2 separate regions of the Homo sapiens genome follow, and region 1 is linked to region 2. The links come from fine-mapping of genetic effects on gene expression. A gene starts in region 2. The other region holds a variant in brackets. All regions are shown on one strand. Distances are from middle to middle. Region 1 has its middle 59 kb from the start of PUM1. Region 2 holds the start of PUM1 (pumilio RNA binding family member 1).

Region 1 (5,376 bases), 59 kb before region 2:
GTCTCCCCCTGGCTTCCAAGTGATTAGCTTTCCAGTTAGGAATTCAACATTTGAGTCTGGTTAGGTTATTTTAAAAATAGTTCCTGACTGCATGTGAGACGCACCGATCCAGTCTCCTTATAAAAAATGTATGCATTACAGCTAAGGCAAAGATCTCCTATGAGCATCAAACCAATCCCAACCCTTTTAGAGGCTACCACAGCTATCAGTTTGATGTGTTTGATGACTTATTTTTATTGAAGCTACTCAGTATTTAGGTACTTTTAATCTGAAGGCTCATGTCTTTCTTCTATTCTGGAAAAATCCTCAGATCTTATTTCTTAAAGTATTTGCCATCCACCCCATTCTCAACTCCTGGACTGTATGTTAGATGCTCTCAGAATGGCCTCCCTATTTCTTATTTTCTCCCTCTTTTCCTTTTCCTTCCCTTTTCCTTCTGGGTCAATTTCTTAGTACTACATTTTTTCCTGCAATTTTACTATTATCATTATTATTATTATTTTGAGATGGAGTTCCACTCTTGTCATCCAGGCTGGAGTGCAATGGCACGATCTCGGCTTACTGCAACCTCTGTCTCCCAGGTTCAAGCGATTCTCCTGCCTCAGCCCCCTGAGTAGCTGGGATTACAGGCACCTGCCACCATGCTGGCTAATTTTTATATTTTTAGTGGAGATGGGGTTTCACCATATTGGCCAGGCTAGTCTCAAACTCCTGACCTCACATGATCTGCCCGCCTTGGCCTCCCAAAGTGCTGGGATTACAGGTGTGAGCCACCGTGCCTGGCCACAATTTAATTATATTATAATAAAGCAATAAAGAATGTTTCAGAGCCTAGTGATGGATCATTTAGTCTAACATCTCATAACAACTTTGAAAAGCACAAGATATCAAATTTTTTTGTTTTGTTTTGTTTTGTTTTTGAGACAAAGTTTCACTCTTGTTGTCTAGGCTGGAGTGCAGTGGCACGATCTTGGCTCACTGCAACCTCCGCCTCCTCGGTTCAAGTGATTCTCCTGCCTCAGCCCCCCAAGTAGCTGGGATTACAGGCATGCGCCACCATGCCTGGCTAATTTTGTATTTTCTGTAGAGATGAGATTTCACCATGTTGGCCAGGCTGGTCTCGAACTCCTGACCTCAGGTAATCCACCTGCCTCAGCCTCCCAAAGTGCTAGGATTACAGGCGTGAGCCACTGCACCCGGCTGATATCAATGTTAAAATTGTGGCATATAGAAAGTTTAATAAAGAAGGAAATGTGGAGAGTAAAATGTAGTTGTAATCCTATTAAAGGCCTTGTCCATTTTCTTTTTTCGTCTGCCAAGAACAAGCAGAGAGTCTTGTCCGTGATGAAAGACTGACAGTGTATTAAAATGTTTAAAGTATTAGGAGGTGGAACACACTTTCAAAGGCAGTTAATAACATTCGCCATATGAACAGTCATTTGATTTAGCACAATAATCTCAGCGTGAAATGTGTAATTTTGCACATAACTGAGTGGCCCCTCCATCTCTGCTACACAGCTCACAGCTCCCTAACCTATCCCGCCCCAAGTCTGACCATCATAAATGCACATCCTCTTTACCTCACTCAGGAATCCAAGTCCCATAATGATTACAGAATGGCTGCTCAGATTATACTCAATAGCCCTGAGATGGGAGAGCCTGAAAGCTAGCCAGTTTCAACGACTTTCACCAGGAACAAAGAACTTAATGATCATTCTCCAGCAAACTAACTTATTTTCCAATACCTCCTTAACCTGGGACCTAACTACGTGTGGTCTCTTTGTTGCTATTCTTGTTTACTAATTATGAGTGCAAGAGATATTTTAATCCAGATATGCTCAATGTATTTCTATTTCCTAATGACAAAGAAGGCTTGATGTGCACAGTGCGATGGGTTATCTTTTGTTCCTTTTACTGTGCTCTGATTTGTTACCCATTAAGGCATATTTGGGCAGAAAAAAGAAAAACTGGGAAGTGGATTGCAACACACACATTTCTTTCTTTTTTTTTTTTTTTTTGAGACGGAGTCTCGCTCTATCACACAGGCTGGAGTGCAGCGGCATGATCTCAGCTCACTGCAACCTCCGCCTCACAGGTTCAAGTGATTGTCCTGCCTCAGCCTCCTGAATAGCTGGGATTACAGGTGCCCGCCACCTCGGCCGGCTAATTTTTGTATTTTTAGTAGAGACGGGGTTTTGCCATGTTGGCCAGGCTGGTCTTAAACCCCTGACCTCAGGTGATCCGCCCACCTCGGCCTCCCGAAGTGCTGGAGTGAGCGAGCCACCGCACCCTGCCAACACACACATTTCTTTTTTCTTTTCTTTTCTTTTCTTTTCTTTTTTTTTTTTTTGAGATGGAGTCTCGCTCTGTCGCCCAGGCTGGAGTGCAGTAGTGGCACAATCTCAGCTCACCGCAACCTCTGCCTCCCAGTTCAAGCGATTCTCCTGCCTCAGCCTCCCGAAAGCTGGGATTACAGATGTGTGCCACCACACCCAGCTAATTTTTGTATTTTTAGTAGAGATGGTGTTTCATCATGCTGTCCAGGTTGGTCTCGAACTCCTGATCTCAGGTAATCCGCCTGCCTCTGCCTCCCAAAGCACTGGGATTACAGGTGTGAGCCACCGCGCCTGGCCAACACACAAATTCCTTAAACTGAGAAACCTCTGAAAACATGTGATCTAATTCAGCTTTTCCCTAGAAAAAAATTAAAGAGGCTGGGTGTGGTGGCTCATACCTGTAATCCTAGCACTTTGGGAGGCTGAGGCAGGCAGATCACTTGAGCCCAGGAGTTCAAGACCAGCCTGGGCAATGTGGCAAAACCCCATTTCTTAAAAAAATACAAACATTAGCCAGGCGTGGTGGCACACACCTGTAGTCCCAGCTACTCAGGAGGCTGAGGTGAGAGGATCACCTGAGCCCAGAAGGTCGTGGTTGCAGTAAGCTGAAATCGTGCCACTGTCTCCAGCCTGGGTGACAGTGAAATCTTTTCTCAAAAATAAAAAAGAAAAAAAAAATTAGGGCCGGGCGCTGTGGCTCACGCCTGTAATCCCAGCACTTTAGGAGGCCGAGGCGGGTGGATCACAAGGTCAGGAGATCGAGACCATCTTGGCTAACACGGTGAAACCCCGTCTCTACTAAAAATACAAAAAATTAGCCGGGCGCGGTAGCGGGCGCCTGTAATCCCAGCTACTCGGGAGGCTAAGGCAGGAGAATGGTGTGAACCCGGGAGGCGGAGCTTGCAGTGAGCCG[A/T]GATAGCGCCACTGCAGTTCCACCTGGGCGAAAGAGCCAGACTGTCTGAAAAAAAAAAAAAAAAAAAAAAGCAAATTTGGTGCTTGTTCAAGCACTCTTATCATGGTGTCAAATTCTAGCATAAATTATAACACTCAAAACATACGTACTTTTAAAAGAAAAATAAAAGCAAGCCATTTAAAAATAATATTTTTGGTCAGGCATGGTGGCTTGTCCCTGTAATCCCGGCACTTTCGGAGGCCAAGGTGAACGGATTGCTTGAGTCAGGAGTTCGAGACCAACCTGGGCAACACAGGGAGATTCCATCTCTACAAAAAAATTTAAAAAATTAATCAGGCTTGATGGCACACACCTATAATTCCAGCTACTTGGGAGGCTGAGGTGAGAGGATCCCTTGAGCCCAAGAGTTAAGAGGCTGCAGTGAGCTATGATCGCACCACTGCACTTCAGCCTGGATGATAGCACAAGACCCTGTCTCAAAAAATGAAATAAAACATAAAAACCAAAAAAAAATTTTTTTTTCTAAATGTCACTTGATGGTTTTTTGTTTTTGTTTTTGTTTTTTGAGACAGAGTTTCGCTCTGTCACCCAGGCTAAAGCGCAGTGGTGCGATCTCGGCTCACTGCAACCTCTGCCTCCCGGTTCAAGTAATTCTCCTGCCTCAGCCTCCGGAGTAGCTGGGATTACAAGTGTGCACCACCACACCGGGCTAACTTTTTTCTTCTTTCTTTTTTTTTGTATTTTTAGTAGAGACAGGGTTTCACCATGTTGTCCCGGCTGGTCTCGAACTCCTGACCTCATGCTATCTGCCTGCCTTGGCCTCCCAAAGTGTTGGAATTACAGGCGTGAGCCACTGTGCCCAGCCTAAAAACTAAATCTTACTATTGGGCTATTTTGCACATCTTTTGGTATCCAGATCAAAATTAGTGGAAGTGAAATGGAAATATAATCTAAAAGTATTTCTGTCTGCTAGATTCTTAGGCCCAGAATCTGAATGGCAGGGAAAGGAGGTTCTGCTCATCTTACTAATTATCCCTTTTTTATCTGGAAGTAACTGCTGCTTTCTGGCTGGTTTATTTGTGCCACTTTCTTTTTCTTTGTAGGAAATGGTGTAAATGGGGGTAGATCTTCTTGGTTTATGTTCAGGAGAATGTTTCTGACCTTTTTTTTCCTATTAATATTGCAAAACAGCGTTCCTCGGGGCTTCCCAAGCTTTGGTCTCTTGGCAACAGACTTCGGTCAGAGCACAGTTACCAATAGGCTGTGGAGGGTCGAATTCAGCACGACACACACAGCACTGGCTCCAGGGATCCAGGGAGTGGGAATGCTGTGCTTAGCAGTCTTCGAAGGCAGGCTGGGGTTGAATATTGTGCCTGTCAGATAAACCTCATCCATTAGCCGCTCTAGTAGGTGCGGCTTTTCAGCTGCATCACATTGTGGAGCATCCCATGGACAATGGAAGGCTTTTTTTTTGTTTTTTTGCTCTTTTGTTTTGAGACAGGGTCTCTGTTAACCAGGCTGGAGTGCAGTGGTGCAATCACAGCTCACTGCAGCCTTGACCTCCTGGGCTCAAGTGATCCTCCTGTTTCCTCCTGGGACTACAAGCACACAACACCATGCCTGGCTAATTTTAAATTTTTCATAGAGATGGGGTCTCGCTATGTTGCCCAAGTTGGCCTCCAATTCCTGGGCTCAAGAGGTCCTCCCACCTCAGCCTCCCAAAGTTGCTGGGATTACAGGCATGAGCCACCATACCCACCCAACAATGAACATCTCCACTGAACACCGACGTCTAGTTCCTTCAGCACGTGGTCTTGGAGCAGTTGCCTGCTGGAGACACATTTTAGCTGGAGTGCGATGATGCTGGACAACAGAGTGTACTTGCCAGAGCCTAGGGCCCCCAGGCTCACTGTGATCAGCAGCTGCTTAGAGACATCTGTGCTGGAGAGAAAATCAGGCTGCCTCCAGGCAGACCGGGAGGAGAGTTTTGGCCTGCCTGGCCTGCTCACCCAGCTCTTTCTCATCTTCACTTGCTAATTTGCATGCCTTTTTTGGAGGGGGGATGGGCAGAGTTGGTAAGTCTTTTAACTCACTTGCACACTTACTTGTCATCTATAATCATGCTCC
Region 2 (5,376 bases):
CAGGATGTTCTCGATCTCAGGACCTCATGATCCGCTTGCCTCGGCCTCCCAAATTGCTGGGATTACGGGCATGAGTCACCGTGCCCGGCCGATATATATTTCATATACCATAAAACTCACTATTTTATTTTATTTTATTTTATTTTTTTGAGGCGGAGTCTGGCTCTTGTCACCCAGGCTGGAGTGCAATGGTGCAATCTCTACTCACTGCAACCTCTGCCTTCCGTGTTCAAGTGATTCTCCTGCCTCAGTCTCCCAAGTAGCTGGTATTACAGGCACCTGACACTACGCCCAGCTAATTTTTGTATTCTTAGTAGAGATGAGGTTTCACCATGTTGGCCAGGCTGGTCTTGAACTCCTGACCTCCAGTCATCAGCCTGCTTCAGCCTCCCAAAGTTTTGGGATTACAGGCATGAGCCACCATACACGGCCTAAAATTCACTAATTTACCAGCCTGGGCAACACAGGGTGAACTCATCTCAAAACAAAAACAAAAACAAAAAAATTAGCTAAGTGTGTTGGTGCATGGCTGAAGTTCCAACTTCTTAGGAGGCCAAGGTGAGAGGATCGCTTGGGCCCTGGAGTTCAAGCCTACAAGTGAGCCATGGTTACACCACTGCACTCTAACCTGGGAGACCCTGTCTCGAAAAACAAAAGTAAAATACAAATTCACCATTTAAATCATAAAGTGTCTACTTTGGTGGTTTATGGTATACTCACAGTTTTGCAACCGTCATCGCACTCTAATTTTAAAAGGTTTTCAACACTCCAAAAGGAGACCCCATACCCATTAGCAGTACCTTCCCATTTCTGCTCTTTCATCCCTCAACCCCAGGCTACTTTTATGTTTCTTGGCTGTATGTGATTTTGTTATGTTTGTTTATTTTGGATTTATTTTATTTTGGATTTATTTCTTTCCTTTTGACATGGAATCTCATTCTGTTTCCCAGGCAGTGCTTCATCTCAGCTCACTGCAACCTCCACCTCCTGGGTTCAAGCGATTCTCTTGCCTCGGCCTCCAGAGTAACTGGGATTACAGGCGCCCATAACCACGCTCGGCTAATTTTTGTAGTTTTAGTAGAGATGGGGTTTCACCATGTTGGCCAGGCTGGTCTCGAACTCCTGACCTCAAGTGATCTGCCTGCCTCGGCCTCCCAAAGTGTTCAGATTGCAGGCATGAGCCGCTGCGCCCAGCCCATTTCGGATTTTTAGAAATTGATTACAGATTTTATTTATTTATTTATTTGATACAGGGCCTCTTTCTGTCTCCTAGGCTGGAATGTAGTGGCCCAATCATAGCTCATTGCAGCTCAATTCCTGGGCTCAAGGGAATTCTCCTGCTTTAGCTCCCAAGTAGCTAGGACTACAGATGTGTGCCACCATGCCCAGATAATTTTTAACTTTTTGTAGAGACGAGGCCTCACTATGTTGCCCAGCCTGGTCTCAAACTGCTGGCCTCAACCAATTCTACCACCTCTGCCTCCCAAAGTGCTGGGATTACAGGTGTGAGCCACCCCACCAGGACCCTGATGGGAGAAATTTTGCATTTATCATGATGATCAACCATTTCCTTATCATGTGTATTGCAAATATATATATATGTATATATACGTATATATATGTTTATATATGTATATATGTGTATATATGTATATATGTATATATGTGTATATATGTATATATGTGTATATATATGTATATATGTATATATACATATATGTGTATATATATATATTTTTTTTCTTGAGACGGAGTCTTGCTCTGTCATCAGGCTGGAGTGCAGTGGCACAATATTGGCTCACTGCAACCTCTGCCTCCTGGGTTCAAGTGATTCTCCTGCCTCAGCCTCCCCAGTAGCTGGGACCACAGGCGCCCGCCACCACTCCCGGCTAATTTTTTTGTATTTTTAGTAGAGACGGGGTTTCACCATGTTGGCCAGGATGGTCTTGATCTCTTGACCTCATGATCCACCCGCCTCGGCCTCCCAAAGTGCTGGGATTACAGGCATGAGCCATCGCGCCTGGCCGTGTACTGCAAATATTTTTTATCCATTTGTTCTACTTTGTTGATGGCATCTCTTCTCGTACAGATGTTTATATTTCTTTCAATATTTTCTTTTATGATCTTTTGACTTTGATTCATGAGTATAAACATTTTCCCTCCTCCAATTATAGAGCTTCTCCCCATATCTTCTTCTGGTCTTTTACAGTATTGCGATTTGTCTGTTTTCAATCTATTTTTTTTTTTTTTTTGAGACGGAGCCTCTCCGTGTCGCCCAGGCTCAAGTGCAGTGGCGCGATCTCTGCTCACTGCAAGCTCCGCCTCCCAGGTTCAGGCCATTCTCCTGCCTCAGCCTCCCGAGTAGCTGGGACTACAGGTGCCCGCCACCACGCCCGGCTAATTTTTTTGTATTTTTAGTAGAGACAGGGTTTCACCATGTTAGCCAGGATGGTCTCGATCTCCTGACCTCATGATCCGCCCGCCTCAGCCTCCCAAAGTCCAGGGATTACAGGCGTGAGCCACCGCGCCCGGCCTTCAATCTATTTTGAGTTTAGTTTGAGACAGTAAGACTAAAAGCACTTAACATACATTATTCCACTTAATCCTCCAGGCCATTCTGTTAAGTGGGGGTTATTTTCTTCTTCATTGTACAAATGTGGAAATGGAGGCAGGTCGATTTAAATAAGGCCGCAGAGCTAGAAAGCTGCAGAGAAGGGGTTTGAACCCTGCACCTCTGGGGCCAGGGCAGTGCGGGTGGCCGTCCGCGAACCCTGCTAGCTGTGGTGCTCGGGGGCAAGCTTCCGAGGGCGCGGCGGGCGCGAGGAGCGCGTCCGAGACTCGGTGGAGCGTCACCGGCGCAACCCCGCGTGCCCAGCTCCAGGCCGTGTTCTCCCAGGTGCGGGCCGGCGGGACCCCGCCTTCGGCCCTGGCGGCGCGCGCTCGCCTAGCGGGCGGGCACTCGCGCGCAGCGTTTGTGTTGCCTGCGAGTTTCCCGAGTTCACACAGGCCCTGGGTTGGCATGGCAACCAGGCAACCTGTTCCAGAGCCGCCAGCCTTCTCCGCACATGCCGCTGCCACCGCCGGGGCCGGGGCCGGAGCCTATCCCAGGATGCACCGCGCCAACCCAGTCCCCAGTGGGCCGCCATGTTGTCGGAGTGAAAGGTAAGGGGGAGCGAGAGCGCCAGAGAGAGAAGATCGGGGGGCTGAAATCCATCTTCATCCTACCGCTCCGCCCGTGAGTATCCGCACCCCACCGGCCCCAAACGCTGCTCCGGACCCCTAACGAGCAGATTGTCCCTTCATATTGGTGTTTGAGAGTGGTTGTGGGGGTGAGAAGGGCTTTGGAAAAGCCGCCGGGGCCCTGGCTGAGGCTTCTCACTCGCTGTTCCTCGTACATGTTTTGGAGTCAGCAGCAAGGCCCCTATTGTTATCAAAGGAGGGAGGGGGTGGGGAGCGGGGTCGAAGCTAGGAAAATGCTGGGGGTTTAGGCCCGAGCCCAGGGCGTAGACGTGCCTCTACATTTTTGCCTGGCCCTGTTGGGAACCACCGAAGATTGATGTTGCCATTCGGGTTGCTTTTTTTGATGGGTTTGCGAAGCCCCGAGTCTTCTGTGTGGCCATGAAGTGTAATTCTGTGCCACCCCGATTTCTTCGACTTCTTGAGCTTCCGTGGCAGCGCCGGAGGAGGAGGAACAATAAATCGCTTTAGAAGCAGCCGTGGCCCTTGTCCACAGGCGAGATTCACCGTGGGGGAACTTTGCGAGCCTTAAATGTGGAGAAGTGGCGATCAGGAAGTTTCAGAATGCTTTTTAGGCTCCTGGGTTGCTGTGGCCTTTTGTTTCCGTGTGAGCTTGTGTTTTTGGTGGGTTCTTCCTTTTTGAGCCTCCCGGTGTTGGTGTCTCTCTTCACTCAAAGAGGGGTTCACCCCTTGCTAGTAGGAAAATCTAGATACACAATACTAGTTTTAGTCCTCACAAACATGCTTGGTAAACATAGATCATTTGTTTTACTTGTCAGTACCATTCCCACGTCAAGTGAGGAATACACTCCTGTAACTTTTCCCTCCTATAGCCCCCCCCCCCCCCCCCGCTGAAAAAACAAAGCCAGAAACCCACACACAGCATTACCAGAGAAGGCTTTATTCTCCCGTAACTTAGATTGTTACCTTTTATTGTTCAATTAAGAAAACACTGTTCTCAGCCCTCGATACCATTTTGCTCAATTCCTGTTATTACTGGGATTAATTAAGAATAAGATTTTATGAAGCTTTTCCTGGGTTCTGTTTTAAAGTCAGTTAACTTCTGAAACAATAGGCTTAGCATTTTGTTTCTTGAAAGCACCTAAAAACTTACTAAGACAGGCCCAACCCCAAGAAATGTGGCTTCCGATGCAGTTTTCGTAAGCAAAATAAACATTTTGACCCTTTGCTAATTTTAACTTTATAAAACACTGGGGGGCTGTTGATTCTTTATCTGGGCTCTTGGGAAACGCTCTCCGGATTCTGAACTTTGAGTTAGTGTTTTGCTTTAGCGACAATTGAATTCATTTTGTTCAAGGCCACAGCTTTTTGAAGTTGGAATTTGTTTAGTTTAGGTTTAAAATGAACTGTTTTAAGATAAATTTATGACCACAGAATGTTTGTTAAGTGTGGTAAAAATAAACACCTTTTAAACCACTAAGCATTTTAGTAAAAGGTGAGCCATGGAAATAAAGTAAACCGTGTTCCTTTGAATTCAACTCAATTAGTGATATTTTAAAAAACTTTGTAAACATTTGAAAGCTGTGAAAGAGTAGCTGGACTGAGCACTTCTAGTTGCTTAAAGTACTTATAAGGTGTCATTTGTAAAAAAATCACATTTTAAATGCTACACGTATTAGTGAGCTTTTCTGATATTTAGGATACTGAGTTTTTAATTTTTGTGCCGTATTTGCCAAAATACCACAAAACTACCCAAGATAACATGTTAATTGCTTAGGTATTTGCTCACTTTGAAACTGTTCTGCCAGGTTTTCTCTGGTTTGAGAAACTGCCTTGCCTCTTTAGGTAAAGCAGGAAGTCTTAGGGCATACAGATAGCTTTACAAAAGCCAATTGTTTCGTTTGAACATTTTTATAGGAGTCTTTTCTTTCCCCCATTCCTTTTAGAATGAAGGTGTGTTTAGTGTGCGTCAGTGATAAACTCCTCTTTTATGTGGATATTCTTTGTTAGATAACTTTTTTCTTTTAAAAATTTTTATTTGTATAATTTGTGAGGTACAAGTGTAATTTGTACATGCGTGTATTGCGTAGTGGTGAAGCCAGGGCTTTTTGTGTGTCCATCACTGGAATAACGTACATTGTCCTCCTTAGGTAATCTCTCATTATCCTTCTCTCAGCC

Evidence for each region. PIP is the estimated chance that this variant, and not a neighbour inherited with it, causes the effect. A credible set is the group of variants that fine-mapping cannot tell apart.
Region 1: its variant is the best candidate, but not a certain one, in a credible set for the expression of PUM1 in whole blood (TOPMed, PIP 0.52).

The regions. Positions count from the first base shown.
Region 1 is chr1:31,122,106-31,127,481 of GRCh38, reverse strand. No RefSeq gene overlaps it. Among named protein-coding and RNA genes, the nearest start is that of PUM1, 59 kb to the right of the region's middle. RefSeq lists an enhancer at 4,795-5,296. The variant A/T (reference allele first, on the strand shown) is at 3,250.
Region 2 is chr1:31,063,475-31,068,850 of GRCh38, reverse strand. It overlaps PUM1 (pumilio RNA binding family member 1), which reads left to right and starts at 3,134. Exons shown (of 22, transcript NM_001020658.2): 1 at 3,134-3,235. RefSeq lists a silencer at 2,828-3,047 and enhancers at 2,376-3,290, 3,158-3,477.